Linked DNA regions of Homo sapiens: region 1 is linked to region 2. The links come from fine-mapping of genetic effects on gene expression. A gene starts in region 2. The other region holds a variant in brackets. All regions are shown on one strand. Distances are from middle to middle.

Region 1 (15,644 bases), 34 kb after region 2:
AAGCAGGTATCAGTTAACCTCAGGATTTACATCCACTATCCATCTTTACTTTTTGGAAAATAACAAATACCCTAAACAGAGAAGTATAAGATCAGGTCCGGAGGAAGGGCCTATTCAGAAGAGTTGCAGAATATTGCCACTTTGCATTGTAGGGATTTGGAGGACAGAATAGGAGTGGATTCTAAGGGTATTTGACCAAAAGGGGTTACATCAGATAAGGCAGGCATACTCACAGAAAATGTGAGTTAATGTGTTGGCCTGAGAATCTGGGAATGGTGATAAGTCTGTCACATTGGTTAACTAAAACCTAAACTCAGTGGTGGCCTACAGTCAACTGTGTTGAAATGTTAGAACTTTCCTGACTGAAAGAGTCCAGAGTCTTAGGAAGACAGGAATGCGGATCTGTTCTTTGCTAATCTGCTCATTCATCCTCTGAGGGATGGGCTTAGAAGACCATCACTTCACCAAGGATGTTTTTTTAAATCCATTAGTAAAGGAGTACCTTGAAAAGCCTTGTGGTATCATCTCTGTAGATCAAAGATGCTGCAGTGAATTTAGGTTACTTGTTTTCAATGGGAATAATGCGATTCCAGAATTGTTGAGATCATGAGATGGTACTTGAGAGTAATAATCAAAGGGTCTTGTGCCACAGGGGTTTCTGGTGATGGTTCATTGATCACAGGGTCTCTAGGAGTAGATTAAATGGGCAGCCTGCAAGGATCTGTTTGACACATTAACAGAAAATTTCTAGGTCTGGTGGACAGACACTTGACTGAAATCACTGTGAGGATGATCCACTGCTGCTTTAATTTTTTAAAGAACTTAGCCATTTTATAGACTTAGGATCTCTTAATGAAGGGGGTAGCTAGATCCTTTTGACAAAGAATCCTGCAATGCAGTCACAAGTATACAAGAGAAATCTTCTCCCAATCTTTTCTAGGGACACCTGTGTCCATTTACCATGGTGATTTTTCACCGGGGAAAGAGAAATACGAAGAACTTCTGGGGCCTGTTAGATACTGGTTCTGAATTGATAATAGTGAGCCCAAACTGCGTCTGTGTTGCCTTGTCAAAGTGGAAGCTATAGACATCAGGGAAAATGCAGTCTTGGCCTGAGTCCATCTCATAATGTGGTTATTTCCCCAGTTTCACTTGAATAGTGGAATAAATACACGGTTGTCTCTCAGTATCTGTGGGGGTTGGTTGCAGGACCCCCCTCAGATACAAAATCCATGGGTGCTTAAGACCCTTATATAATGGCATAGTATTTGCACATCCTAAGCCCATCCTCTCAGCTACTTGAAATCCTCTCTAGATCACTTACAATACGTAATTATTGTTGTACTCTATTGTTTTCCTAATGTATATTATTTTTATTGTTGTATTGTGTTTTAAATTTTGAACAGTTGTTGGCTGAATCCACAGTTGCGACCCCTACAGATAGAGAGGGCCAACTGTACTTACTAATTTGCAGGTGCCCCACATTGGTTCCTTTCCCTGCGAGGTGAAAATTGTGGTAGCAAGGACCAAGTGGAAGCCCCTAGAACCGCTCATCCCTGCCTCCAGCTAAGGCAGTAAGCCAAGTAATACTGCATCCCTAAAGGAACTGCAGAGATTAGTGCCACAATCAGACACTTGAAAGATGTAGAGGGGTGATGTGGATGTTTTCACTCCAAACTTCCTAATTTTCCCTGGCCTGGGAGTGGCATGGATGCTGTTCTTGTTCCTTAGGTACACTGTCAGACAATTCTCCTTCCTTCCTCACATCATCAATCTATGCCACCCACCATCTCTTAGTGCAGTCATCTCTTCATCCAGTGTTACTTGCCCACATCCCCATTGAGCTTACCTGTTTGGCTAAGGCAAAATATTAGTCTTGGGAAATGACTGTAGATTATTGAAATTTAATCAGATAGTGATGTCAATTTTGGGTGTTGTTACTGGAACAAGTCAACACAACCCATGGGACCTCAAATGAAATTGTTCACTTAGCAAATGCTTTCTTTTTAATTCCTATCAGCAAAGAAACTCAAAAGCAATATATCTTCATATGACAGAGACAGCAGTCACTGTTTTGTAGCTCTCGGGTTCTCTATCACAATGTAGTCAAGAGGGGCCTTGATCCATTACACTGATAGCATTCTGTTTTCTGGTGACCTTGGTGGTAAGACACATGCATGCCAGAAGATAGGAGATAAATGCTGTAAAAGTTCAGAGGCTTGACATAGGGAATAAAGGAATATTCCCTCTAAAATGAAAGGGGTTGCATCGTTTTGCACCAAACACAATAAATAGAGCAGCATAATGCTTGATGAGCTTCTATGAATTTTTGAAGGCAAAATAACTATGTCTGATCTGTTGCTATAATCCACTTACCTGGTAGCTCCTAAGGCTGCCTGTTTGGAGGGGAGCCATGTATCTGTGAAAATTCTGTCAGGCCAATGGAGGCACTACAAATGTAACAGGTAATTTTACCTCTGACCACTGCTTACCTTTATGTTAGTTCTTCCTCATCCTCTCAAATCATTGAACATTCCAAATCTTGGTCCTCATAGCTCATCACTTTTCTATTAATACTTATTCCCTTGGTGATCTCATTCATTCTCAAGCTTCAAGTACTATCCATATGCTGATGCCTCCCAAATATTTAATGTCTGTCCACACCTCTCAAGACCTCTTACCTGCCTCCAGTCTCAGATTTCCAGATGCCTACACATGTCCTCTTGATATCCACTGGTAGCTTGCACATAATACGTTTGAAAGTAAGTTCTTACTAGGCATTCCCCACCCCTTCTTACCCAAACCTCTACCATCCCTGGGATCATTTGTCCCTCTGTCCTTCTGTCTTCCTCCATCTCAGTATATGGGATCTTCATCCTTCCAGCCACTTGGACTCAAATCCATGGAATCATCCTCTTTTCTCTCCTACTCCACACATATGCTTCTTTCTTATACACAGTACTTGAGTACTTCTTTCAACACACAATACTTGAGCAAAACTGTCAGTTCAACCTTCAAACCACACCCAGAGTTGGACCACTCTTCACCATCTCCGCCGCTCCTCACCTGGTCCAGGCCACCACTGCCTCACCTGGGTGATTGCCACGGTCTCCCCAATGGACTCCCTACTTCCAGTCTTTCCCCCTTCAGTATATTCTCCGCATTGCAGCCATCTCCCTCACAGTAAAAGCCAGAGTCTTTCTAACAAGCATAGTAGCCTACATGATCTGGCCTCTGTTGCTCCCTACTGTACTATTCTCTTTCTCATTCTCATTTCCTACTCTTATTCTCACTTCCTATTAGGTCGGTGCAAAAGCAATTGCAGTTTCAGACCGTGAATTTTAAATCATTATAACTAAGCTCAGACACATCTTTATTAATCAAAGTAGGAACCATTACAATCAACACAGTTTTGCCAGTGAGAAATAAGTTTATTCCTGTAGCATAAAAATCCATGCTTCAGGATTTGACAAACTCTTGGAAAGAATTTTCTGCATCCTGCTGGTTCTGGGAGCGTTTTCCCTGCAAAAAGTGGTGGTTGGTTGGCAAGAGCTCAGGTGAATATGGCAGATGAGGCAAAATTTCATAGCCCAATTTGTTCAACTTTTGAAGCATTGGTTATGCGATGGGCAGTCAGGCGTTGTTGTGAAGAAGAATTGAGCCTTTTCTGTGGGCCGATGCTGGCTGCAGGAGTTGCAGTTTTCGATGCATCTCATCGATTTGCTGGGCATAATTCTCAGATGTAATGGTTCTGCAGGATTCAGAAAGTTGTAGTGGATCAGATGGGCAAGAGACCACCAAACAGTGACCGGGACCTTTTTGTTTTGCAAGTTTGGCTTTGGGAAGTGTTTTGGAGCTTCTTGTTGATCCAGCCACTGAGCTGGTCATCACCAGTTAACATATAAAATCCACTTTTCGTCTCACATCACAATCCGATCAAGAAACGGTTTGTTGTTTTTGCGTAAAATAAGAGAAGACACTTTTAAAAACTTTTTATTTTCAGTTAGCTCATGAGGCACCCACTTACTGAGATTTTTCACCTTTCCAATTTTCTTCAAATGCTGAATGACTGTAGCATGGTCGACGTTGAGTTCTTCGGCAACTTCTTGTGGAGTTTTAAGAGGGTTCGATGGTTGCTCTCAATTGGTCGTTGTCAACTTCCAATGGCTGGCCGGTACACTCCTCATCTTCAAGGCTCTCGTCTCCTTTGCAAAACTTCTTGAACCACCACTGCACTGTACATTCATTAGCAGTTCCTGGGCCATATGTGTTGCTGATATTGCGAGTTGTCTTTGCTGCTTTACAACCCATTTTGAACTCGAATAAGAAAACGCTCGAATTTGCTCTTTGTCTAACATCGTTTCCACAGTCTAAAATAAACATAAATAAACAGCAAGTAATAAGTCATTAGCAAAAAAAAAAGCGAGAAATGCCCGTTAAAATGATATATAACATAACTACATTTATTTAAGAATATATTCCAATATCAACAGCGCAAAAACCACAATTACTTTTGCACTCAACTAATACTATTCTCCCTATCTTCACTTTACTGCAACCACACTGGAATCCTCCCTGTTCCTTGAATATACTAGGCACAGTCCTACTTCAGGTCTCTACATTTGCTGTCCCTTTGTCTGGAATGTTCTTCTCCCAGATACTCGCATTGTTCACCCCTTACTTCCATCAGATCTTTATTTGACAGTCATCTCCTTAGTGACTACCCCCGGACACTCTAAAATTGTACATCATTCTGTTTCCCATCCCCAACACTCCAGATCTAGGTTCTCTGCTTTATTTTCCCTGTGGGGCTTAACCACAATCAAACGCACCATACATTTTAGTGTCTTCATTATTGTATGTCTCAGCTCCAGTCCTTGCCAGACTATAAGATCCAAGGAAGACAGGGATTTAAACTAGTTTTGTTTACTCCTATTTCCCCATGGTCTTATAACAGTGCCTAGCTCATATAAAGGCTCAATAACTATTTGTTGAATGAATGAATGCTGTGGTTTTGTTTTAGTTGTCTAGGGCTACCATAACAAAGTACCACAGACTATGTGGCTTAAACAGAAATTTATCTCCTCACAGTCCCGAAGGGCTAGAAGTCTGAGATTAGGGTGTCAGTAGGGTCGGTTTCTTCTGAGACCTCTCTCCTTGGTTTGTAGATGACCCTCCTCTCCCCCTCTCCCTGTGTTTCTGCATGGTCTTTATGTTGATCTGTGTCTTCATCTCTTCTTACGAGGACACCAGTCATATTAGATTAGTGCCCACCCTAATGACATCATTTAACCCTAATTACCCCTTAATTATCTTATGTCCAAATACTGGCACATTCTGAGATACTAGGGATTAGGACTTCAACATATGAATTTGGGGTGACAAAATTCATCCCACAACATGTCTCTACCCCTATGACATAATTATTCACTTTCTCAGATGGATTATTTATTTCCCCATTCTCTCTATTTGCTCACATAATGCTAATCTCTTTCTTTCTTTGCCAATATTCCAATTTTCAAGTACAGTCATGCGTTGCTTAATGATAGGGCTATATTATGAGAAATGTGTCCATTAGGTGATTTCATTATTGTGTGAACATTATAGAATATACTTACACGAACCTAGATGGTACAGCCTACTACACACCTAGGCTATATGGTAGAGGCTATTGCTCCCAGGCTACAAATCTGAACAACATATTACTGTACTGAATACTGTAGGCAATTATAACATAATGGTAAGTATTTATGTATATAAACATATCTATACGTAGAAAAAGTACAGTTAAAATATGGTATAAAAGACTAAAAGTGGTATGCCATTTTTAATGGTACACATTGTATAGGGCAATTACCATGAATAGAGATTACAGGGCTGGAAGTTGCCCTGGGTGCATCAGTGAGAGAGTAGTGAGTCAATGTGGAGTCCTAGGACCTTACTATCCACTACTGCAGATGTTATCAACACTATACACCTCGGCTACACTAACACTATAAGAAATATTTTTCCGGCCGGGCGCGGTGGCTCACGCCTGTAATCCCAGCACTTTGGGAGGCCGAGGCGGGCGGATCACGAGGTCAGGAGATCGAGACCATCCCGGCTAAAACGGTGAAACCCCGTCTCTACTAAAAAATACAAAAAATAGCCGGGCGTGGTGGCGGGCACCTGTAGTCCCAGCTACTTGGGAGGCTGAGGCAGGAGAATGGCGTGAACCCGGGAGGCGGAGCTTGCAGTGAGCCGAGGTCCCGCCACTGCGCTCCAGCCTGGGCGACAGAGCGAGACTCCGTCT[C/CA]AAAAAAAAAAAAAAAGAAATATTTTTCCTTCTTCAATAATAAATTAACTTTAGCTTAGTATAGCTTTTAAACTTTATAGACTTTTATGTTTTAAACATTTTTACTCTTTTGTAACAAAACTTAAAACACACACATCGTATGCTCTACAAAAATATTTTCTGTTTGTATCCTTATTCTATAAGCTTTTCTCTATTTTTGAAATTGGGACTTTTTTTTACTTTTTGTTAAAATCTAAGTCGCAATGCACACACATTAGTTTGGGCCTGTACAGATTCAGGACCATCAATGTCACTGTCTTCCACCTCCACATCTTGTCCCACTGGAAGGTCTTCAGGGGCAATAACATACAAGGATCTGTCATCTCCTGATAACAATGCCTTCTGGAATATCTCCTAAAGGGCTTGCCTGAGGCTGTTTCACAGAAGTAGAAGGAGTAAATTTTAAAATAACAATTAAATGTATACTATAGTAAATACACAACCCAGTAACAGTCATTTGTTATCATTATCAAGTATTCTGTACTGAACATACTTGTATGCACTAGACTTTCATACAACCGGCAGTGTTGCAGGTTTGTTTACACCAGCATCACCACAAACACGCGAATAATACATGGTGCTGTGAAGTTACAACAGCTATTATGCCACTAGGCAATAGGAATGTTTCAGCCCCATTATAATCTTATGAGGCCACTATTGTATATGTGGTCTATCATTGACCAAAATGTCATAATCTGCTACATTACTGTATATATTTCTATATTTATTTGTATAAAATCTCTGTCTTCCTTCCACCTTTGGACTCTTAAGTTCCAGGCATTCTGTTAACACTTGACTAATATTCTTAATTTAAACATCATAGCCACACTACAAAGTAAGCACCGTTACTTGTATTTCAAGAATGTAAAATCTGAGGCCCAAGGAAATTAGACAATTTTTCAGAGGTCATATTAACTCATAAATGATGTCATTCTGATTTTAATTTAGTTTCCACAGACTCAAAAGCACATTCTTTTATATCTATACCACATTGTCATCAAGATGAATGGTGAAAATCATACTTCTGCCTTATATGTTGTGAGTGAAGCTGCCCTTGAAGGAAGTCTCCTGTTTCAGGAAATGAGATTAAGTTTAGATTCTGAATAATTATCCCCATAAATTGAATTTGGATGTTATATTTATATTTTTTACTACTGCAATTTGTATAGTCCTTGATGATCATTTAAATTTATTCTGCACAATTTAACAATTAAAAAATATTAAAAGTTGTTTCCTTATGAAAGTGTCAGAATTACACAATGAATTAATAATGTTGAAGCAACGGCTATAATTTTATACTAAAATGTAAAGGAAAAAGCCATTGCTTTTGTTTTTTTTGTTTGTTTGTTTTTTGTTTGTTTGTTTATTTCATTGCTTTTGTTAAAACAGTGTAACATATGTTCTTGATAAAAATGCCAGGGCTTTATTGGTGAAAACCGTAGTAGGCTTTGAAAGCCAGTTACTTATAATTAAGTGAATATCATTGTCTCTTTGGGTGTAGATGATTGTTTAAAATAGAAATTTTTTTATTGATTTTATATTTTAGAAAGAGCTTTGCTTTAAAATATATATCATGTTGGCAATGAAAAACTTAATTCCAGTGGATACCAGTTGTGAAATCATTAAGTTGATAAAAAAATAGCTGTCCATAATTTTGATATACAAATAGAAATACTATAGGTCATAGTGCAACTACTTATAACTGTTGAACTCTGGTTTTTATTTTGCATTTCCAAACAAACTGTTGCTCAGAGTTTGTGGATGATGATCTAGTGGCCATTTAATGGTAGTTTTTAAATTGGTGTCAAGAGGTGGAAGGGCAGAGATGGTGCTTTCATTGACTCTTAAGTATAAGGAAAATGTTACTGGTTTTTTATTTCTGTGTATATGAAGCTCCTAAAAATAAAAGGTTAGAGCATTTTATCCAAATAAATATCTTTTCAGAGCATATGAACACTGTGAAGGAGCTAAAGACTTAGATAATAATCAATACCTGTGAAATCTGATATTAATTTAGGGATTTAAAATAGACCTGTAGACAGTGAAACATTTGCAGTGAATGATAATTGAAACAAAGAAATACTCTGAATTTTCAAGTATAAATTCCTGTTGTTTTCCTAGGAACCCCTCATATATAAATGAGTGCAGTTGGTCATGAAGTTGACTGAAAACATTAATCACTTAGTAACACGGAAGAGGTAAGCATAATCTGATGAAATTCGGTTTATATCATTGTTGGAGACCTATTTTATTTAACAATCAAAGAATTAATATGAGCCAAGCTCAGTGGTGCACATCTGTAGTCCCAGCTACTCTGGAGACTGAGGCAGGAGAATCCCTTGAGCCCAGGAGTTAGAGGCCAACCTGGACAATATATCAAGACACTCTCAGAAAAAAAAAATTTAATTTGAGGTATTTTTCTTTTATTTGAATATTCAAGATAAAGCTGTGCATCTTGAAACATATGAATTAAAGCCATTTTAAAGCTGAGATAGGCTAGAAAAGCCTTATCCTGGAATCTTAATAAAGGTAGTCATTTGAGAAAGAAAAGTGTAGATGAATAAATACAATCCCTTGAGGACAATATTCATGTGGAAAAGAATTTCCAGATTTGTAAAAAATAATGGCATGTAATTTTGCGTTAAGGACACAGCATTCCTGCATTTGTATTTGCAGAAATCAGTGTTCAAATATCAAATACATCATTTGTCAAAATTGCCTTTTGCAAAACTGACATCCTTTCAACTTTGGGCATGATTAATTTACTAAGGGAAAAAATACTTACTTCTCCCTGGACTTTAACCACATTTGTATTTAGAATTATCATTAAAAATGGTATTTCTCAAAAAAAGTTGACAGGTCAAGATAGATATACTCATGTAGCTATCAAATAGAAAACTGTTCCCAAAGCAATTATTTCAATTTTATAGAAAAAAATGACATTTTCATTCCTAGTTTACTTATGTTTTATCCCAGTCACTTGTATTTCATACTACTTTTAGGGTATGTGTGAAACGTGCAGTATTTGATCACTTAAAAGCCTAATTTAGGAGGCATCAGCCAGAAACAGGTGCAATATATTGCGTCCAAAGTAATTGTGCAGATTTTTCATCATGAGAAATGGTTGCTTTATTTCAAATAGATTTTCTTTCCTCTTTTCTCTATTTCTTACATGCCATGTTGTAAGAGAATATTTTCTTTCTGCTGACCTTGAGGCAGGGCAAGAACAAACTTTTCTTTCAGAGCACAAGAGTTCATTTATGTGAGGTACCTAGGAAAATTAAGAAAGCCAGTTAGATAAGCTTAATGGGAACTCATGATGGGTTCAGATTTTTCAACATTTCTTTAGGAAACTTTTTATTTGCCAGTTTCGTTTTACAGGGTGAACTATATGTCCTGATTCTAAGAAGACATTATAGGTACCAACACATGGTCTGTATATCCACCAATACAATTTTCAGTCTGTCCTGTTCATACTTTCCAGAACTGTCTTTCTTGCAAACCAAATTAAATTGTGCCATTGTCTTCCCTGAAAAACAGGGTTTTAGCTCTCTCTTATCCTGTAGGTTCAAGTATAAAGTCCTTAATATGGCTTACAACACTCCAGTTACAAACCTCCTCCAAATCTTCACTTCTCAACTTTATTTCACTATTCCACTCCTTAGGTATACTTGCTCCTCATTGACTTTCAGACCCCTAAATCCATTTACCCTCTGCCTTTTCTGTACTTGTCCTTCCCAGCTGATTGCTCTCATTTCAATTCATGACCCAATATTAAATGGTTTGTAGTGCTGCCCCACAATCATTCCTGGTCCACTCACCCAGATAACTTTTCCATACTTTCCCTTCTCTTCTTCAATTTCTAATACATTCTCCATCTTTGCTTTTTGCTGATTACCTTGCTTCCTATTCCACTGAAAAAGCAGATGTCTCGGAAGAGAATTTCCCCAAGCTTCCTCCATCACATCCACCCACCTTGCTACATCTGTGCCCAGGCAGTGTGCCTTCCCTCCTGCCACTAGAGAGGAATGTCCACACTCCTGTCTAAGCCCAGCCCCTTGATTTGGACACTAGATTCATTCCCTCTACTCCGGATGGTACTTTGGAAAATCTCACCTCTTTGGCACATCAATTTCCCGTCAATTATGGCATCATTCCCAGAAACATAAACATGTTGTTACTTTTCTCATCTTAAAAAGAAATCCTCTCCTTTTTTCACCAAACTGATGCTTTTTTAAAAAGAGAAAGAGAGAAGAAAGAGAGAAAGAGAGAGAGAAAGAAAAAGAGAGAGATAGAAGAAGAAAGAGAAAGAGAGAGAAAGAAAGAGAGAGAAAGAAAGAGAGAGAGAAAGAAAGAAAGGAAAGAAAGAAAGAAAAAGAGAAAAGAAAGAAAAGAAAGAAAGAATCCTCTTTCACTCCATCCTTCCCTCTTGGATACTGTACCATATTTCAGTTTCCCTTTTCTGCAAAAACTGGAGATGACTTCATCATCTACAGTTCTTCTTATCTATTATAATAATTCTAAAACCAACTCAAATCAGGCCTCATTGACCACTGATACTTCTTTTTTCAAAGTCACCAAAGACTTCCATGTTGCTAAGTCCTTTGGGCAGTTCTCAGTCCTCATCTTACTTGACCTATCAGCAGCATTTAACTCACTGTAAATGCTTTCTTTTTTGATACAGCATCTTCACTTTTAGGATACTACTTCAAGTTTTTTTTTTTCTCATTGGTCAGTTTTTCTCAGTCTCCTTTGCTAATTCCATTTATCTCCCCAAACCCTAAATGTTGGCAGGTCCTAGATCCAGTCCTCAGATCTCTACTCTTTCTACACTCATTCTCTTTAAATACATTTATACATTGATTATCACCAAATCTATGTCTCTGGTCCAGAGCTCTCCCCTGAACTCTAGGCTCATATATCTCTCTATTTGACATCTTCACTTGGACGTCTAAAAAGTATCTCAAATACATTATGTCCCAAAATGAAATCTTCATTTCCTTAAAATCTGTTAATTCCACAGTTATGTCTCCATGGTAAAAATAAATTCTATTTTTTCAGATGCTTGAGTTAAAAATCTTGGAGTTTCCTTTACTCTTCCCTTTCTTGCATACCCCACCCTCACATCCAATCTGTCAGCAAGTACTGTTGGCCTTTTATTTGAAATATATCTAAATCAGACCACTTTTCATCACCTCGACAATTACCACTGTGGTCCAAGCCACCATCATTCTTCATCTAGAATGTTGCGACAGCCTTGTCAGTTGTTTCCTTATTTTTGCCTCTCTAACTCACTATTTTATTTTTTAATACATAAACCAGAATGCTTTTTTTTTCTTTTTTAACTTAGGTCTGATTATCTGATTCCTCCACTTAAAAAGCTCCGTGGTCTTCCAACTCTGTTATATTAAAAACCAAGATCATGCCCTTGCTCATCAGAAAAATAAAAAAAGGCCCCAACCCAAGGTCATTACCATGAGCCTAGTGTGCCTAATTGGATTTTGGAGGCAACACATTCCTCATTTGGGTGTGTTACTCCAGCCCATTTATCGAATGACCCAAAAAGCTGCCAGTTTTGAGTGGGGTCTAGAACAGGAGAAGTCTCTGCAACAGGTCCAGGCTGCTGTGCAAGCTGCTCTGCCACTTGGGCTATATGACATAGCAGAGCCAATGGTGCTTGAGGTGCCAGTGGCAGATAGGGATGCTGTTTGTAGCCTTTGGCAGGCCCCCATAGGTGAATCATAGCAGAGGCCTCTAGGATTCTGGAGCAAGGCCCTGCCATCATCTTCTGCAGGTAACTACTCTCCTTTTGAGAGACAGCTCTTGGCCTGTTACTGGGCTTTGGTAGAAACTGAACGTTTGACTATGGGTCATCAAGTCACCATGCAACCTGAACTGCCTATCATGAACTGAGTGCTTTCTGACACATCTGGTCATAAAGCGGGATGTGCATGGTAGCATTCCATCATCAAATGAAAGTGGCATGTACGTGATTGGGCTTGAGCAGGTCCTGAGGGCACAAGTAAGTTACATGAGGAAGTGGCTCAAATGCCCATGGTCCCCAATCCTGCCACCCTGCCTTCTCCCCACTAGCCTACACCAGTGGCCTCATGGGGAGTTCCCAATGCTGAGGTGACAGATGAAGAGAAGACTAGGGCCTGGTTCGCAGATGGTTCTGCATGATATGCGGGCACCACCTGAAGTGGACAGCTGCAGCACTACAGCCCCTTTCTAGGACATCCCTGAAGGACAGCAGTGAAGGGAAATCTTCCCATTGGGCAGAACTTCGAGCAGCGAACCTCATTGTGCACTTTGCATGGAAGGAGAAACGGCCAGATGTGTGATGATATGCTGATTCAAGGACTGTAGCCAATGGTTTGGCTGGATGGTCAGGGACTTGGAAGAAGCATGATTGGAAAATTGGTGACAAAGAAATTTGGGGAAGAGGTATGTGGATGGGCCTCTCTAAGTGGTCAAAAACTGTGAAGATATTTGTGTCTCCTGTGGGTGCTCACCAAAGGGTGACCTCAGCAAAGGGGGATTTTAATAAAGTGGATAGGATGACTCATTCTATGGACACTACTCAGCCTCTTTCCCCATCCACCCCTGTCAACACCCAATAGGCCCATGAACAAAGTGGCCTTGGTGGCAGGGATGGACGTTACACATGGGCTCAGCAACATGAACTTCCACTCACCAAAGCTGACCTGGCTACAACCACTGCTGAGTGCCCAATTTGCCAGCAGCAGAGAACAACGCTGAGTCCTCAGTGTGTCACCATTCCTCAGGGTGATCAGCCAGCTACTTGGTGGCAAGTTAACAACATGAAATGATTATATTGGACCTCTTCTATCATGGAAAGGACAGTGGTTTGTCCTAACTGGAATAGACAGTTGCTCTAGATATAGCTTTGCCTATCCTGCATTCTATGCTTCTGCCAAGACTACCATTCATGGACTCATGGAATGCCTTATCCACCATCATGGTGTTTCACATGGCATTGCCTCTGACCAAGGCACTCACTTTATGGCTAAAGAAGTACAGCAGTGAGCTCATGCTCATGGAATTCACTGGTCTTACTCCATTCCCCATCATTCTGAAGCAGGATGATAGAATGGTGGAATGGCCTTTTGAAATTACAACGCCAACTAGGTGACAATATTTTGCAGGGCTGGGACAAAGTTCTCCAGAAGGCTTTGTATGCTCTGAATCAGCATCCAATATACAGTACTGTTTCTCCTATAGCCAGGATTCACAGGTCCAGGAATCAAGGGGTGGAAGCAGAAGTGGCACCGCTCACCATCACTTCTAGTGACCCACTAGCAAAATTTTTGCTTCCTGTTCCCACAACATCACATTCTACTGGCCTAGAGGTCTTAGTTGCATTGGGAGGAACGCTGCCACCAGGAGACACAACACTGATTCCATTAAGCTAGAAGTTAAAATTGCCACCTGGCCACTTTGGGCTCCTTCTACCTCTGTCAACAGGCTAAGAAGGGAGTTACAGTGTTGGCTGAGGTGATTGACCCAGACTATCAAAATGATATCAGTCTTCTACTCCACAATGGAGGTGAAGAAGAGTATGCGTGGAATACAGGAGATCCCTTACGGTACCTCTTAGTGTTACCATGACCTGTGATTAAGGTCAATGGGAAACAACAACAACCCAATCCAGGCAGGACTGCAAATGGCCCCAGACCCTTCAGGAATGAAGGTTTGGTTCACTCCACCAGGTAAAAAGCCATGACCTGCTGAGGTGCTTGCGAAAGGCAAAGGGAATACAGAATGGGTAGTAGAAGGAGGTTAGGCATCAATACCAGCTACAACCACATGACCAGTTGCAGAAACGAGAACCATAATTGTCATGAATATTTCCTCCTCCTTTTGTTAAGAACATGTTTGTTCATGTATACACTTGAACTAAAAATATCTCCATCTTATTTCCTTTCTTTTTCCTTTATCATGTGACATAAGCTTTATTGACTTTATATCAGCATTTAAGTGATGTTAACTTTATGTAATAGTATTTGGGTTGGGGATTGGTGCACTTTCGGTTATACAAAGAATAACTGTATTATATTAGGTGTAATTATGACCTTATTATTGTCTTTATTTGAAGATGATGTATGATTTCAGGACACGTGTATGGGTTCAAATTGACAAGGGGAGGACTTGTAATGGTTATTATAGTCAACTTGATTGGATGGAAGGATGCAAGGTATAGTTCCTGGGTATGTCTATGAGGGTGTTGCCAAAGGAGATTAACAGTTGAGTCAGTGAACTGGGAGAGGCAGATCCTCAATCTGGGTGGGCACCATCTAGTCAGCTGCTAGTAGCGGCTAGGACGAAAGCAGGCAGAGGAACGTGGAGGGACTAGAATGGCTGAGTCTTCTGGTCTCCATCTTTCTCCAGTGCTGGATGCTTCCTGCCCTCGAACATCAGACTCCAAGTCCTTCAGCTTTTGGACCCTTGGACCTGTACCAGTGGTTTGCCAGGGACTCTCGGGCCTTCAGCCACAGACTGAAGGTTGCACTGACAGCTTCCCTACTTTTGAGGTTTTGGGACTGGCTTCCTTGCTCCTCAGCTTGGAGATGGCCTGTTGTGGGACTTAACCTTGTGATCATGTGAGTCAATACTCCTTAATAAACTCCCATTCATATATACATCCATCCTATTAGTCTTGTCCCTCTAAAGAACCTTGACTAATACAGAAAGCATACATTATCTGGCTCCCTGCTACCTCTTTGACATTATCTTCTATCAATCCTTCCCTCCCTTACTCTGCCCCAACTGTACTGGCCTTCTTGCTGTTATTCACACACACCATGCAAGTTTCCACTTGTGAAACTTTACAAAAATCTTGGAAAATCTTCCCCTGGTTTGCCAGTGAATTGAATCCTTACCTCCTTCTGGCCCGCGTGAAAATATTAGCATGTCAATAAAGCCTTCCCTGGCCACCCTAACTACAATTGCACCTTCTTTTTCTAATTTCTATCCCCCATTCCATTTATTTTTTTTTCTCAGAGTTATCATCATGATCCGATATATTAGTCATTTTACCTAAGTATCTTGTGTATTTATCTGTCCTTCTACCCCTATTAAATATTAACTCCATGGGGGCAGAGATTGTGGTCCGTTTTGTTCATGGCTGTATTCCTTTTGCTTTGAATAGAGCCTCAATAAATATTTGTTGAAAAATTAAAAACCTTCATACTTTTATATTTTCTCTTCTTTTGGGATGTTTTGAATGTTTGTTCAAAAATTTCTTTTTTTTTTTATTGAGACAGAGTCTCTGTCACCCAGGCTGGAGTGG
Region 2 (15,644 bases):
TATAGATGCAAAAATTGTTTAAAAAATATTAGCAAAAAATCAGCAATATATAAAAGGAATTATACACTATGGCTAAGTAAGTTTATCTAAGGATGTAAGGCTGTTTCAATATTTGAATACCGATTAGTGTAATTTATCCTATTAGGCAGCTAAAGAAGAAAAAACACAAGACCATATCAACTGATGCATAAAAAGCATTTGAAAAAATACAACACCCAGTTATGGGGAAAACTCTTAGGAAAAGAGAAAGAGAGGGGAAAAGTTCCCCCTTCTCAACTTGGTAGAGAAAAATCTACAAAAAACCTATAGATAACATTATGCTAAATTATGGAATGCCTTCCCCCTAAGATGAGGAAAACAGCAAGGATGTCCACCCTTACCACTGCTATTCATCATAGTTCACACTTATTTAGAAGTATATTATTCAGTTTCCAAGTGCATGTAAGCTCTAGCAAGCACACTAAAACAAGAAAATTCAATAAAAGGCATATACATCGGAAAGGAAGAAACAAAACTGCCTCTATTTGCAAATTCCAAGATAGTCCATGTAGAAACTCCAAAGGAATCTACCAGAAAAAAACCTCATAGAACGAATCAGCAAGTTCAGCAATGCCACAGGACACAAGAGCATCACACGAAAATCAATCATATTTCTATATACCAGCAATAAACACATAGAAACAAAAATTAAAACAAAAACAAAAATTAAAAGTATAATAGTTCAAAAAAAAAAGAAGTGAAAGAAATACTTACGTATAAATCTAACAAAACATGCACAGGACTTGTATGCTGAAAAATATAAAATGCTAAAAAAAAAAATAAAAGAAGACTAAAATGGAAAGACATGCCATGTCTGCAAATTGGAAAAGTCAACTTAATAAAGATGTCCCCTTAATTTCCTCCAAACTGATATAAAGGTTTAACACATTTTTTATCAAAATCCTGGCACAATTTTTTGTATATACAGATGAGATTACTGTAAAATTTATATGTAATGATAAAGAAAATAGAATATCTAATACAACCAAAAAGAATAATAATGAGGGAAGTATCAGTCTACCTGATTTCAAGACTTACTATAGCTATGGTAATCAATACTGTGTAATATTAGTGAAAGGAGAGACACATAGATCAGTGGAATGCAATACACAATTGAGAAGTAGCCCCATACAGTACAGCCAAGTGACTTTTGACAAAGGTACAAATGCAATTCAATGGAAGAAAAAGAATCTTTTTTAACAAAAAATGCTGAAGAAAATGGATATCCACAGGCAACAAAAAAATGAACCTTGACCTATACTTCATACTTTATGTAAAAATTAACTCAAAACGGTCATAGATTTAAATGTAAAATATAAAACTTTTAGAGGCAAATACAGAAGAAAATCCTTGCAACCAGGGTCTCATTAATGAGCTCTTAGACATCAAAAGCATAACACATAAATGAAAAAAATTAATAGATTGGATTTTATATCAAAATTATATTTTTCCTCTGTGAAAGTCCCTTTATTTAAGAGGATGAAAAGACAAGCTATGAGCCAGGAAAAAAATATTTGCAAACTGAATCTAATAAAGAAATAATCTATAAAGAAATCTGAAAACTTACCAGTAAAAACACCAGACAATTCAATTTAAAAAATGCGCAAAAGGCACAAAGAGATATTTCACCAAAGAGAATATACAGATGGCAAATAAGCACATGAAAAGATGTTCAACATCATTAGTCATTATGGAAATGGAAATTAAGACTGCAATAAATATCCCTAACCATCTATCAAAATAGCTAAAATAAAATATAATGACAACACCAAATGCTTGAGGGCTTGCAGAGACACTGGATCACCCATACATTGCTGGTGGAAATAGTTTGGCAGTTTCTTAAAAAAACTAAACATACACATACCATATTACCCAAGAATCATGCTGCTGACCATTAGAAATAAAAGCTTGTGTGTGTGCAATAGCCTCTACATGTTTCATAATGCTTCATTTGTATAGCCAAAAGCTGAGGACAACCAAAATGTTGCACAATAGGTGAAAGAGTAAACAAATCATGGTACATCCATACCGTGGAATACTACTCGCCATTAAAAATGGATGAAGTGTTGATACACATAATTTAGATAGGTTACAGGAATCTACACGTGAGAAAATTACAAGAAACTACACACACACATTGTACTAATGTCAAATTCCTGGTTTTGATCTTTTACTAGAATTATGTATGCACCCATATGGGGAAACAGGGTGAAGGGTACATGGAAACTCTATCTTTACAACTTCTTGTGTAATTATTTTAAGATATTAAAAGATAACAAAAGATCAATCAATTCAGAAACTATTTTGATGTTCCAGCTTTCTTCTTGCTCAAAACATAGAAAATGCAAATAAAACATAATTATTTAATTGGTATAAAATCATTCCTCTGTATTGTAAAATAAGTCGGAAATAAAACAGTAAAAAGGTGACTAAAGGAGATACTTCCAAAAGAATAAAAACTGTATTTCTGCATAGTGGCATAGGTCCTGAGAATATCAATTTTTAAAACTCTAACCACAAACACTTTTTAATTAACTTTACTGTCATGAAAATCATGTATGTAATTTAGATCTTGTGTTGGATTAAGTCAATTATTGAGCCTCATGGTTCATGAATAAGTGGACCACATGATGTAAACACAAAGTTATTTTTATTTCTATAAATAGTAACAAAAACAAGTTTTACTTGAAAATTTCAACTATCCTAAAATAATATAAAGAATCACAGATAGCTATTCACTTTTATAACACTGTTTTTAAAAAAAGTCTGCCATGTATATTCTATACAGAATGACAAATCTAAGGAGCTGAAAATTTCTATTTCTTAAATTTCATTTGAGTAAATCCTACTTGTATAAGTGTATTTTGCAAATAACAAAGAATATGACATTTGCAACTAGAGAAATAGTCCTAAATGGTTCATCACTTATTAGTGACTCCTACTTAGGCTCTCTGAGGCTTTGGCTTCCTCATCTGCAAAGTGGACACACCTATGACACTGGACTGTTGTGAGACTTAAATGATACAATGAATATTAAGTTAATATCGTCAAATTATATGTAAATATTAATGATTAAAATCAATAACATTATTAACAGTTAAACAATTCTCAATTCTTGGCAAAAGATTTATAAGGCAATTATTTTTCTTCAAATATTCTTCAAATTCAATTATGCTATTTCATTGATTTTAAGACACAAATTTTTTCACACTTATCTGAAACTGACAGGCATCTTAAAATCACTCTGGTTGGGTAGTAGTCATGACATATTTGTCATTACATGTGTATTAAATTTGAAGAATGGATATCAGTGTGTTGGAAGAAAACCTTGGAGATAATAATGGACATTGATTTAAGAAATGATATATCACTAATGCTCTAAACAGAGAATGATATTATGAAAATAAAACATGGACACAGAGACTCTGAGTTGAAAATCAATGAAAAGACACTTTGAATGTTAAGAAGTTTTAGGAATGCCTCAGCCAATGAATTTTGCTCATATTGTTCTTTGTATGTAGGTGCAAGGGTGTTATATGATTTTTTTAAAAGGGGGCTCTTTGCATGAGTAGAAAAAATTCTTAGTGATAAAGAGTTGTGCCATAGTTGGCATTTTTTTTCTTAGTAGTATATAAAATAGTGTACTTTTAAGATTACACCCCAGCTTCAATGAAACACCTTCCTGCCCAAAACACTGACTCAATTTTTAAAATGATTGTTATTCTTTTTTTTAAAAGCCTTCCATTAAAATTTGATTTAAAGAATTGAATGAATAAAGGTAGAAGAGTCAAGCCTAAGAACCAAGCCTTTGATAAAAAGTAATGACAAAAATCATATGCCACTTGATAAAAGCAGAACGTTAAACTAAAGCTGTGCTCTGCCTGATCTGGGCTTTGATTTCACTGGGTCCTACAGTGATCTTAGTTTCGTCACTGATGTTTCAATATACAGCATGATTTCTGGCCTATTTTAGTAAATATTTATTATAGATGCTAAGTATATGACAAGCACCGAATTAGGCACTAGAGATATAAAGAGAATAAAAGACAGACATGGTCCCTGCTTTTTCCTTGTCCAGTATCTGGTGAAAATGACATAATAAATAAAGTAGGCAAATAAATAATTATACATTTTTATAAGTACTGTGAAGACACAAGTAGGAAGTGGAAATAAAAATGAACAATGGGGCATTCAATTTCAGACAATAACAAAAGGGGTAACAGGGAACACTTATACAGTGCTTATAATGTGCCATGCTTTGTACTATATTTTTTGTTTGTTTTTTTGAGACAGGGTCTTGCTGTGTCACCCAGGATGGACTGCAGTGGCAAGATCACAGCTCACTGAAGCCTCAACCTCCTGGGCTCAAGCAGTCCTCCCACTTCATCCTCCTGAGTAGCTGGGATTTACAGGCGTGCATTAGCACACTCAGCTTTTTTTTTTTTTTTTTTTTTAATTTAGAGATGGGATCTCACTATGTTACCCAAGTTGGTCTCAAACTCCTGGCCTTAAGTGATCCTCATGCCTCAGCCTCCCAAAGTGCTGTTGACTACAGGCATGAGCCACCATGCCTGGTCCCATGCTATATGTTTTACACATACTCTTTTAATCTTCAAAAAAAAAACTGGATAAAGGAGATACTTATCTTCATTTTACAAACAGAGAAAACAGGCTTTGATAATTTAAGTAATTTGGCTAAGATCATATAGCAAGTAAGCAGGGAGTTGGTATGTGAACTCAGTTTGGCTCAAGAGCCCTTGCTTTCAGCCACTACAATATTAGGGAAAGCCTTTCTGAAGTGTCATTTGAGAATTGAATGATAAGAAGGTAAGGGGTTGGTGGAAGAAATCACATATAAAGCCCTACAGGGGTAAAGGAGTCCTTCAGTTTTAGGAAATTAAAGGCGGCCAGTGTGGCTGGAGTAGTTAATGAAAGGAAGAGGGTTAGGAGATAGGGCTGCAGAAGGCAGTTGCTACCTCAGTCAGGATGCTATGGGTCACAGGAGCTGGGATTTTATTCTAAGTGAAATAGGAACGACTGATTACTTTAAATTGGACAGTGACATGACATCATTTTTTTAAAAAATATTTTTCTAGCTAATATGTCAAGAATGAATTGAAAGGAGGTAAGAGAAGTAGGGTCCAAGTCATTCATTTATTCAACAAATATTAGACAGTTTATGGAGTAACAAATATTGTGGCAGGTACTATTCTAGATACTAGAAATACAGCGAAAAACAACATAGACAAGGTCCTCTACCCTGGAGTCTACTTTAGAATGCCGAACACCCCCCCCCACACACATACCCCTTCCTTCTCATACATTAAGAGCTTCTCCCACCCTACTAGACATTTTCCATTAGCATGCAAATTCTAGTATCTTCCATCTTTAAACAAACATCAAACAAAAATCTGTCCTTTGACCTTTTATTCCCTCTAGCTACCATTCCATTTTTCTACTTCCTAAATCCAGAAAAACTTCTTTAAAGGACACTCTGTGGTAGCATCACCTCCAGTTATCGTCTCAACCCACTACAATAAAATTCCTTTCTTTTACTCCATTAAAACTGCCCTTGTCAATGTCACCACACTACCATCTTGAAGGTAAATTCTCACTTCTCTCTCCTCATCTTATTTCACCTCTTAGGATAATTCACACTGTTAACTAGTCCTTGAAACACTCGTCTTTTAGTTTCTGTGCCACAACATTCTTCAGGTTTCCTACCTTGCTGGCCTCTCCTTCTCAGTCTAATTAGAGGGCAATGTAACATAAGAATTAAGGGCATAGATTTCTAGATTTAGCTCTGAAAGCAAGTTGTGCTTATGGCATAGAAGACATTGGAAGAGAGTGCTCCCCTTTCTCAGGCAGGCTAGAAAACTGATTAGTATTTCAGATGAAAAATGATGGTGGGTTATACTAGATTGTTAACAGTGGGAATAAAGAGAAATAAATGGATTTTTCTGTATTTTAGAAATAGAGCCAAAAACACTTGGAGATGGATTGGATATAGGGAGTCAAAGAAGAGCAGCATCATGGTTTCTTCCTTGAGAAACTGGTAGAATTATGGAGCTATTCAAATAAGTCTTGGGGGAAAAAAGAAGGGTTTGAGGTAGAATAAAGTTTGTGACCCAATAAAAAGTTAGTGAGTATATCTAAAAAACACCTAGACTTAGAGATGATCTCATCCGATGCCTTTCCATTGAAATTAATACATGGAAGAGGTTATGTCACACATAGGATCCTGTGTGACCAATGTCACACAGACAATTGGTGGTAGAGCTGGAAATAGAATACGAGTCCCTCAGAATCCTGCTAAGAAGCCACAGATCAGCACCAAGCAAGATGATCATTACAGACTGAGTGAGCCCCTATTACTTTAGTCCTCTTCTTCCCCTGACCAATGCAGTAAAAAATATTTTAATAAAATTGTTGGGTTCATTTAATATAGTTAAGCAAGTTATGAACTGCATATTTATATTTCCTTAATAAAAGTGAGGGAAGTAAAGGCAGATAGAATATAAAAAGCAGTGTTACCCTTGACAGTAATAAATCTATTGTGGAGTCATTAATAACATTTACTCATGTATACTATTTGTAAAAGGTATACATGACATTCCCTCTCAAGTACTGTACATTCTATTTTGCAAGATAACACACATGAAAATAATTCAGGACAATAGGAGAGACGTCATAAGGCAATACTAGAATAACTGCCAAATGAATTACATAAACAATACTGTTTTGGAAAAAGGTACTCTGAAGTAGGCCCTAAGAGAAGGTTTAAGCTAAGCTCTGGAGAATTTGTAAAACCACACAGGGAAGGGGATTAAACAAACCTATAAAATATGTTCACAGGGTGATAGGTTTGGGGCTGAGGTTTGGAAGTGGAGAGAGTAAGCTATTTTAGACTAGGTGAACAGAGACATTCTGTTTGGTATGAGATTTGGGCCTGAATGATACAGAGGAAACAAGGAATGTGATAATGGGAGAAGGGGAGAATATTCTAGATTCTAGACCAAGTACAAATAATCCCTACGTTACTGTCTGTGTATTAGGCTCCATAGATCTAATACACAGAGATCTTGCTCGATGGTAAAATAATGGGATATGAATTCCTGAATTTAAACAAATTCTCTTTCTGAGCTCATTGTCTCCATCAGTAATAACTAGTGCACAGAACATGTGCAATAACGTACACAGAAGTGTTTTGGAAACAGAAACGTAATGTATCAAAGTTATAAAAATCAGTTTAAAACGACAAGAAGGAAAGGTTATATGATTCTTAGTTAAAAATGGAGAAGTGAGTTATGATCATTGCTGATATGGGTATTAGTATCACTTACGTATCTTTACACTGTCTCTTATTGTACTTTTTATGCGTATGATTTATTTGCCTTACCAGATTGTAAGCTCCCTGCAGCTGGTAAGCAGATTTTCAACATGGCAGCTGACACAGGCTTTTGGTTAGCTAAGATGATATATTAAGCCAATAATTCGTTTTACTGTCCTTTGGGGATCTGAATTTGTGTGTGTGTGTGCTCAGAATCCCATCTACTTTCGAGGGATTCGGGGGGCTTATGATATCACGAAAAGTTAATGAAGACAAGTATAGATAAAAACATAATAGAACCCATCTTAAATAGGACAGAAATCATAGGCAGGTAATTGTGTTAATTACTACCGCTGGCCTTTGGCTGATATTTCCGGGCAGTCAGAGGAAGAAGGAAATCGGCTGAATCCCGCAGTACCGCACTTTAATCGACCTCCAGGTAGTCATTTACAGTCATCTGCAGAGACCAACTTTTCCCTGGACCAAAACCTGCAGGGCACTTGGATCGCGTGGGCTTTCATACGAGAGTCAACAACAGCCTACACGGAACAACTAAGGAAACAGACATACATCAATATGACCCTTCGCAAAGTCTGAGAAAATAACTGAGCAAAGTTATTTACTTGTTTCTGTTGCTGTTAGAGCAAGGACCTCTGTCATGATGGAAACACTGATACCTCAACAATGGAATCCTGTTTTCTCGCTAGTGCTCTAGCCCAGGCTTGGCAATAGCAAAACAGCACCTGGGTCGCTTCATCGCCCCAAATAAACAGCCAGCATTAGCTCAGCTGCTCGCTGGCAGCCTCGGATCCAGGCGGGGTCAGTGTTGCGCACTGGGGATAGTGCCTCTGCTCGGCCTTCGGAGGGAGGGTTTCAGGTAGGCTGCTGCTAAGGGTCGGGAGCGTACTGTGTGAGGGTGGGTCTTAGGCTGATGCGGATGGGGGCAGGGAAAGAAGGAACTCAGGGCTGATGCGTTGCACAACTGCAGGGGGCACCACTGCAGACCCCCTCCTAGAGATGGAAACCTCTCGTGCCCCGTACACGAAGCAGCTGAAGCCAAGGACATTCTCTTCTCTGTGGGTCACAGGGGCCAACTCAGACCCTGAGAATAAGGGCTACCATCCCACTCCTCCCTCAGACCCCGGAGCTCACCCACCTGCAACTGCAGTCTCCGAAGTCTCCACCCCAGTCTCCCTGCCTCCAGAGGACTGGTTGCGATTGGCCTGCACCGCTGTCCCGTTAACTCTTCCGCAAGTGTGAGTGGCGTAACTGTCGGGCTCTTGGCCTTGGTCCCGCCCTTCGCTCGCCTCCGAAGCCTCGCCTACTTGACGTCATACAATGCCGCAAAGCGCAGGGCTGATCTCCGTCTCCGCCCCCAGCTGCTTTCTCCGAGAGGAGGTGGCTGAGTCGGGGGCGGGCTGGGAGGGCTGTCGGTGGGCCAGTCTGCGTAGCGACGGCCCGTCCCCTGCGCACGGACGCCGGGAAGAAGGGGGTGGGGCCACGTTTGCGTCCGCGCCATCAGGCCCGAGATAGCGGCGAGGTCCGCTTTCAGTGTATGGTTTTCCCTGCCAAACGGTTCTGCTTGGTGCCATCCATGGAGGGCGTGCGCTGGGCCTTTTCCTGCGGCACTTGGCTGCCGAGCCGAGCCGAATGGCTGCTGGCAGTGCGATCGATTCAGCCCGAGGAGAAGGAGCGCATTGGCCAGTTCGTCTTTGCCCGGGACGCTAAGGCAGCCATGGTACTACAGGTCTTTTTTGGTATTTAGAGCCTAGGAAGCAGATCTTGGGGGAGGCGGGCCGGGCTGTGGAGACCCGACACTCCCGCGCTGGCCGCGACCCTCTCGCTGTGGAGCCTGTGGCCGGCCCGGGCGACAGCAGCCGGCGCTGCGGAGTTGTGGGCGACGCACGGCCTGGTTTCCACGGCCTTTGTAACCGCCTTGGAGGCCGCGATGGCTGTAAACATTATCTCTTTCCCCTTGTTATTTCAAATGGAGACCCTCCTAAACCATGAAATAAGTGTAGGGAAGGCCGACAAAATTGGGTTTTTCTGTAATGAATGTTTTTATGTCTTTATCTTTAAATGTTATTTTTTTTTGTTTGTGTGCGTTCATAGCCTATGCTTATTCTGCCTGTTAAATATCCCATCATTCTCCAAGGACTCCCTGCACGTGGTAGGCCCTAGAAATTATTGACAGTATGATTTAGTTTGTAGCCCTGCGCTCCCCGGGATTGAAGCCAATGAAATTGAAGCCAGAGAGGATACCTTCCTCACTAGATGCCATGGGAAACAGTATTTTACGTAGATTTATTTATTTTAGCTATGTATTTTGAAGCAACAAATGGAAAACTGGATTTCAAAACAAGTAATCTGTACAATATGGTGCAATTTGAAACAACCGTGAATTACCATCATTTAAAAGACAGTCCTTTCTTAAAAATGTCCCATATTGAAACACTTTCTGTTTGAAATGTAGACTAGTTGATAATTTTTAAGGCACATTGGTGAAAATTTTTTACTCATTTGTAAGGAATTGTAAAATAAGCTACATTTAAAAGCCTGCAGTTTTTAAAAGTCAGTGTTAGAATTGAAGAAGAAAAAAACCTGAAAGATATTTTTAAAAATATATACTTTGTCATCTTATATTCTTGTTTTTTTGTGTGTGTGTTTTTAGTAATTATTTAAAAAATAATAATTGGAGGTGGGAGAGAGCAGAACAAGATAGGTCATGCCTTGCTAATTGTTGAAGCTGGGTGATCAATATATGGGATCTAGAAATACATATGCACAGATGTAGGTACAGTAGGGTTGCTCACTGCAGAGTTGTTTTTGACAGCAAGTCTAGAGCCAGCCTAAAATGTCCAATAAAGGGGAAATAATATTATGAAATATGCTACAGTTAAAACTGCATGGACCAGACGTGTGTGTACAGACATAAAATACTTCCCAATACTTATAAATTTAAAGCTTATATGTGGTAGAATACTGCATAAGTATAATCTCATGTTTGTGTTTATATGTAGAGTTAGCAAAAACATGTAAATGCACATATATTTAAATACAGAAAAGACTGACAGGATGCCAGCTGTTAACTTTGGTCACTAGCAAAGGAGAGGGAATTGCTAAGGCGGGCTTTAACTTTTTATCTACTTAAGCATTGCTTAAGTCTTAATTAACGTGTGTTTAATACTTAAGTATTTTGAAAAGTTTTAAAAATGAAAATTTTAGAAACCAAAAAAAAGTACTATTGCATACAGTGTGCTTGTATCTTTAGTAGACATCAGTACATACCAAATGTTTTATGTACTTAACAGGCTGGTCGTCTGATGATAAGGAAATTAGTTGCAGAGAAATTGAATATCCCTTGGAATCATATTCGTTTGCAAAGAACTGCAAAAGGAAAACCAGTTCTTGCAAAGGACTCATCGAATCCTTACCCGAATTTCAACTTTAACATCTCTCATCAAGGAGACTATGCAGTGCTTGCTGCTGAACCTGAGCTGCAAGTTGGAATTGATATAATGAAGACTAGTTTTCCAGGTAACGTTGCATTTTTCTAGTATGGCAGTTAAGTGTCTCGATGCCTCAGTTCTATTGCTATTGAGTAATCTCAGGCCAGGAGATGTATTAGAGATATTTCAGTTTAGGGAAAATGTGCTTAGTACACAAAGGTAATGGAGAGCATAAATCTGAAAAGGGTATATTTCCATGAATATTTACAGACTTACACATAAATAATAGATTATCCGTTACTGGGGATCCATAACTTTGCCTAGAGGTAAAGTGAAATATTAAGTGAAATTTTTTTTGAATTATACTTCAATTTATTTCACTTAAACATTAACCACAATTTTTCAGTTAATTGTTTGTTTTTTAAAAAAGAATCTGAATAGTAAAGTACATTGTAGTCCTTATGTAGAGATAACGTATACAGTTGACACATGAACAACACAAGTTTGAACTGCATGGGTCTACTCATGTGAATTTTTTTCAGTAGTTGGCCCTCTGTCCCCATAGATTCTGCATCCACAATCAAACGTGTATCAAGATTCAGTATTTGCAGGATATGAAACCTGAGGATGTGGAGGGCTGACTTCATATATGCAGGTTCCATAGGGCCGCATGCGCAGATTTTGGTATCTGAGGAGGGTCCTGGAACCAGTCCCCAGTGGATACCAACGGGCGACTCTTTGTTCTGCATCTAAATACATCTCTTTTTAGCCCATTTATGTAAGTAAAAATGAGGAGCAAGCATTATTAAAATATTTAAGTTGCTTATATATTGCCTTAGAAATTTGTTAGTGGTGGCTTTAAGGACCACTAACATTTGTGGTGAAGTTGAATGTACCCAGGCAATTTAATACATACTAAATACAGGTTCTCTTAACTGCTGTATATTTGTCATCATCACTAACATTTAATGAACACTTAACCACGTGTCATGGCATTTTACATAGTGCTTTAGACATATTCTGTGATTTAATTCTCTCAACTACCCTATGATGCATATACTGCTATTTTTAAAGAAAATAAGTAACAGGCTAAGAAGAAAGCTATTAATAAAAGAACCCACATCTTCCTAATTTCATAGTAAAACTATCTAATCTCCATACTGCCTGCACCATATGTGGTTTGAATATGTGGCTCTCTCAGTCTGTAAGGCTTGTATTAATTTTATCTCTCACTCCCATTTCTGCATAGAGAACTCCTATTTACTTGTTAGATTTCACCTTAACCTTACTTTAGGGAAGCTTTGTGAGCCTTCAATCTAAGCTAGGTTCTTTTGTTGTAGGTTCTCATAAAATATATTTTCCTTATTCCAGTAATGTATCTCAGTTGATTATTCATCAGGATGATTGATTATCTTTTCCTGATACTTAAAAGCTGTGTGAGAGCAAGAACCATGTTAGCCACATCAGAGTTTGATCACTATCACATCTCTTAGTACCTTGCCTAGCATGTAATAGTAAAATATTTGTCAAATGAATGAATAAACACTGTGCTGTTAGAGTATAGGCTTCAGTGTGGTTGTGAATCTCTTCTCCCTTTTGCTTTTATTGTCCTTACCTTGCATTTTCCTACTAGCTACTCTTTCTCTTACCTGCTAATAAACCTTTCCAGTACAACTCTATTCTCAGGTTTGTTCAGAACAAGGCCCTACTAGTGATTTTGGAAACCTTATAACAGATTGTTGATCTGATTCCCTGGATAAGATTCCAGGAATTTTGTTTACCTCCTGAAACTGTATGCTACATTTTGTATGATATGCACATGTGCATTTTTCTTGGGAAAGGATCTGGTATTCAACAGGGACATAGGTGGCTTACTCTAAAAAAATTGCTGCTATAGAGGATTCTTAGCATGGGAATTAGCCCATATATTCTTGTAGCTTTCTGCTGTCATTACAGGAACTTTTTCTAAAATCAGAAATGGAAAGGCCATTGTTTTTTAGAATGCAGTCAGCACAACTACCTGGTAATAATTGGCCCAGTGGGTTGGTATCTGCTTGGAAATGATACTTCTGAGAAACAGATTTTGTTACCAGTTAACTTGATGGGCAGTGTTGGCTATGGTCAATGCTAGATAAACAAGTAATTAATAACTGAAGCTTTTAATAAATGATGGTGTTCTCACTCATAGATGGGAATTGAACAATGAGAACACATGGACACAGGAAGGGGAACATCACACTCTGGGGACTGTTGTGGGTGGGGGAAGGGGGGAGGGATAGCATTAGGAGATACACCTAATGCTAAATGATGAGTTAATGGGTGCAGCACACCAGCATGGCACATGTATACATATGTAACTAACCTGCACATTGTGCACATGTACCCTAGAACTTAAAGTATAATAATAATAATAATAAAAAAGAAAAATAAATGATGGAAAGACAATTGAGCAAAAATTTAAGATTTAGTTTTCCTGTTAATTGTGTTATTAGACCTCCCCCCACCAGTTTTTTTTAGTTGATCTTACTTGACTAATCACAATGTCTAGGCCTTTTCCTTTTCTTTATTTTGTTGTGAAAAAGCTGTTGCTATGTCCAGTAACACAGAAAGGAAGAGAGATTTTCCAATTGTCACTAGTGTTGTTACCATGCTACTGATTCCTGAAGCATCAATGGACACAGCATGATTTCTTAATGAAGATGGGAAGTAGACACTGATTTGCTTCATTGGAGATTCTTTGAATTGCTCTACTTATTGTAGTAAGTGAGGAGATTGAGCAAGGGATTTTTCCTAAGAGTCTTGCTAAATGATGCTAGGCAAAACTTAGGAGAGCAGCAAGGAAAGTACTCTGTTTTGTACTAGGCATTGTTACTAGATTGCCAACTCTAAAGACAGAGTTGGCTTTTGGGGGTTATCATTAGTGCATTGAAAGAGTCAATTCCATTACTCTGTCTTGTCCTATAGGTAAGAATCCACTAGGAACTCAGAGAGTCTTTTTCTTTCATGGTGCATTAACCATTTCTGCTGAGTGCAGCTCATTTCCCTCCCTCTACCTGTTCTCCCAACTGTTGCTGTGGACGTGCAGGAGAGAACATACCTAGTATATAGCCTACCATATGCCAGGACGGTACATTCTTACTCTTAGGAAGAATGGTGTTTTCCTGGTCTTCATCTTAATTTATTACCCTCTTTTGGAAAATTTTGGTTGGTTTTCCCTTTGTTTTCTAATTTTTTCTACCATTAAAAGTGTTTGAAGTGATAAGCATAAAGGGTAACTTTTGAATTGTTTAGTTTTGTGACCATATTTACAAAGTAAGGCAAAATAAAATAGACAAAATACATAAAAATTATGATTGAAATTTGGGAAAGGACCAGAATTTTCCCCCTATGGTTTTACATGTTCGTCTTTACATTTTTAAAATAAACTTTGCTGGACTTTTTTTTTTAAATGCACTTGGGATTTAAAACCTGTAAGTAGTTTTAGAAACTCACACATCACTTTGTACTCTGAATTCCTTACTGGAAAACCAAGTCTCCACCCTCAAGGAGTTTTCCTCCTTCCCAGTTACAGGTCGGTCTTTTTCCTTTGTCAGTAGGATTTGATTGTGTAACTAGTATTTATTGAGCAATTCCTACAAGTGTGTGACACTATATTAGATGCCTAATAGGTATTATTTCATCTTTGTAAGACTAGTGCGTAAGTACTACTGTTATTTTATATAAAAGGTTAAGACATTTGTCCAAGTTGACTTAGCTAAAAAGTAAAACTTCATATATTTAACCACTGCTCTCTACAGTATATGGCCTCTCAGTATGAGATTTTATTGATTCCTATTAAAAGAATTTGCAGATACCAAAATATGAAAAATTCTGTGAAACTGGGTTACATACATTTAAAGTTGTTATGGAAGAACTAATGACTAGGAATATGAAAAATATAGTAAGGGTCTTGCCTTACCAGTTTCAAAAACTTGTGTTAGTCATTGTAAACTAAAAAGAGTATGGTACTAGCGAAAGAATAGACAACTGGAAGAGTTAATCTTAGAGCCCAGGATATATACATATTTCAATTCAGTGGATAAAAGATTATTTATTAAATGGTGCTGGTAGAATTGGTTAGTCATGTGGATGTAACACATACTATATACACCAATTTGGAGGAATTAGAAATTTAAAAATAAAAAAGTTTAAAATTTTAGGACAAAATATAGTTGACTATGATGTCGAGTTGCAGTAAATCTTTTTATGAATTCTTTTCAAACGAGACAGAGTTCAGAATTTATCAAAGAATGGATATTTAAATTTAAAAAAATTATATTCCAAAAATATAACCAAATACAAAAGATAAATAATAGAATAAGGAAAATTCTTATAACAAATTTGGTAAGGTGTCAATATCCATAATATATAAAGAGCTTCTATGAAGTGATTAGAAAATATTAATAGGCACGTTACAGAAGAACAAATTCAAGCAGTCAGTAAGCTATTACCTTAATGATTAGAGTAATGCAAATTAAAGTAACAGTGAGGTGCCCATCAGATTTGCAGAAAATTGGAAAAAAAACACTTAGAGCTTGTGAAAATGTCGGAAAAGAACAATCATATAGATGGAAACACTAGAAATTGCTACAGGCTTTTTGGAAAATAATGTTAAAATTGAAAATACACATAGTCTTTGATTTAGCGATCTTGTTTATAGTACTCTATCCAAAATATTTATGAATAACAACAAAACCTGAATGCTGCTAATAGAAATTGGTTAAATAAATTAATGGTGGATGCATTCTGCAGATAATTATTAGCTGTAATAAAAGAATTAGTTAGGT

Evidence for each region. PIP is the estimated chance that this variant, and not a neighbour inherited with it, causes the effect.
Region 1: its variant is fine-mapped to the expression of AASDHPPT in whole blood (INTERVAL, PIP above 0.99).

What each region holds. Positions count from the first base shown.
Region 1 is chr11:106,103,022-106,118,665 of GRCh38, forward strand. LINC02719 (long intergenic non-protein coding RNA 2719) reads right to left here. Exons shown (of 3, transcript NR_135099.1): 3 at 9,438-9,602. Among named protein-coding and RNA genes, the nearest start is that of LINC02719, 21 kb to the right of the region's middle. The variant C/CA (reference allele first, on the strand shown) is at 6,293.
Region 2 is chr11:106,068,787-106,084,430 of GRCh38, forward strand. AASDHPPT (aminoadipate-semialdehyde dehydrogenase-phosphopantetheinyl transferase) reads left to right here and starts at 8,876. Exons shown (of 6, transcript NM_015423.3): 1 at 8,876-9,107; 2 at 10,681-10,906. The coding sequence starts at 8,925. KBTBD3 (kelch repeat and BTB domain containing 3) reads right to left here and starts at 8,561. Exons shown (of 4, transcript NM_198439.3): 1 at 8,526-8,561; 2 at 7,721-7,921. RefSeq lists enhancers at 8,354-8,473, 8,484-8,593, 8,904-9,143.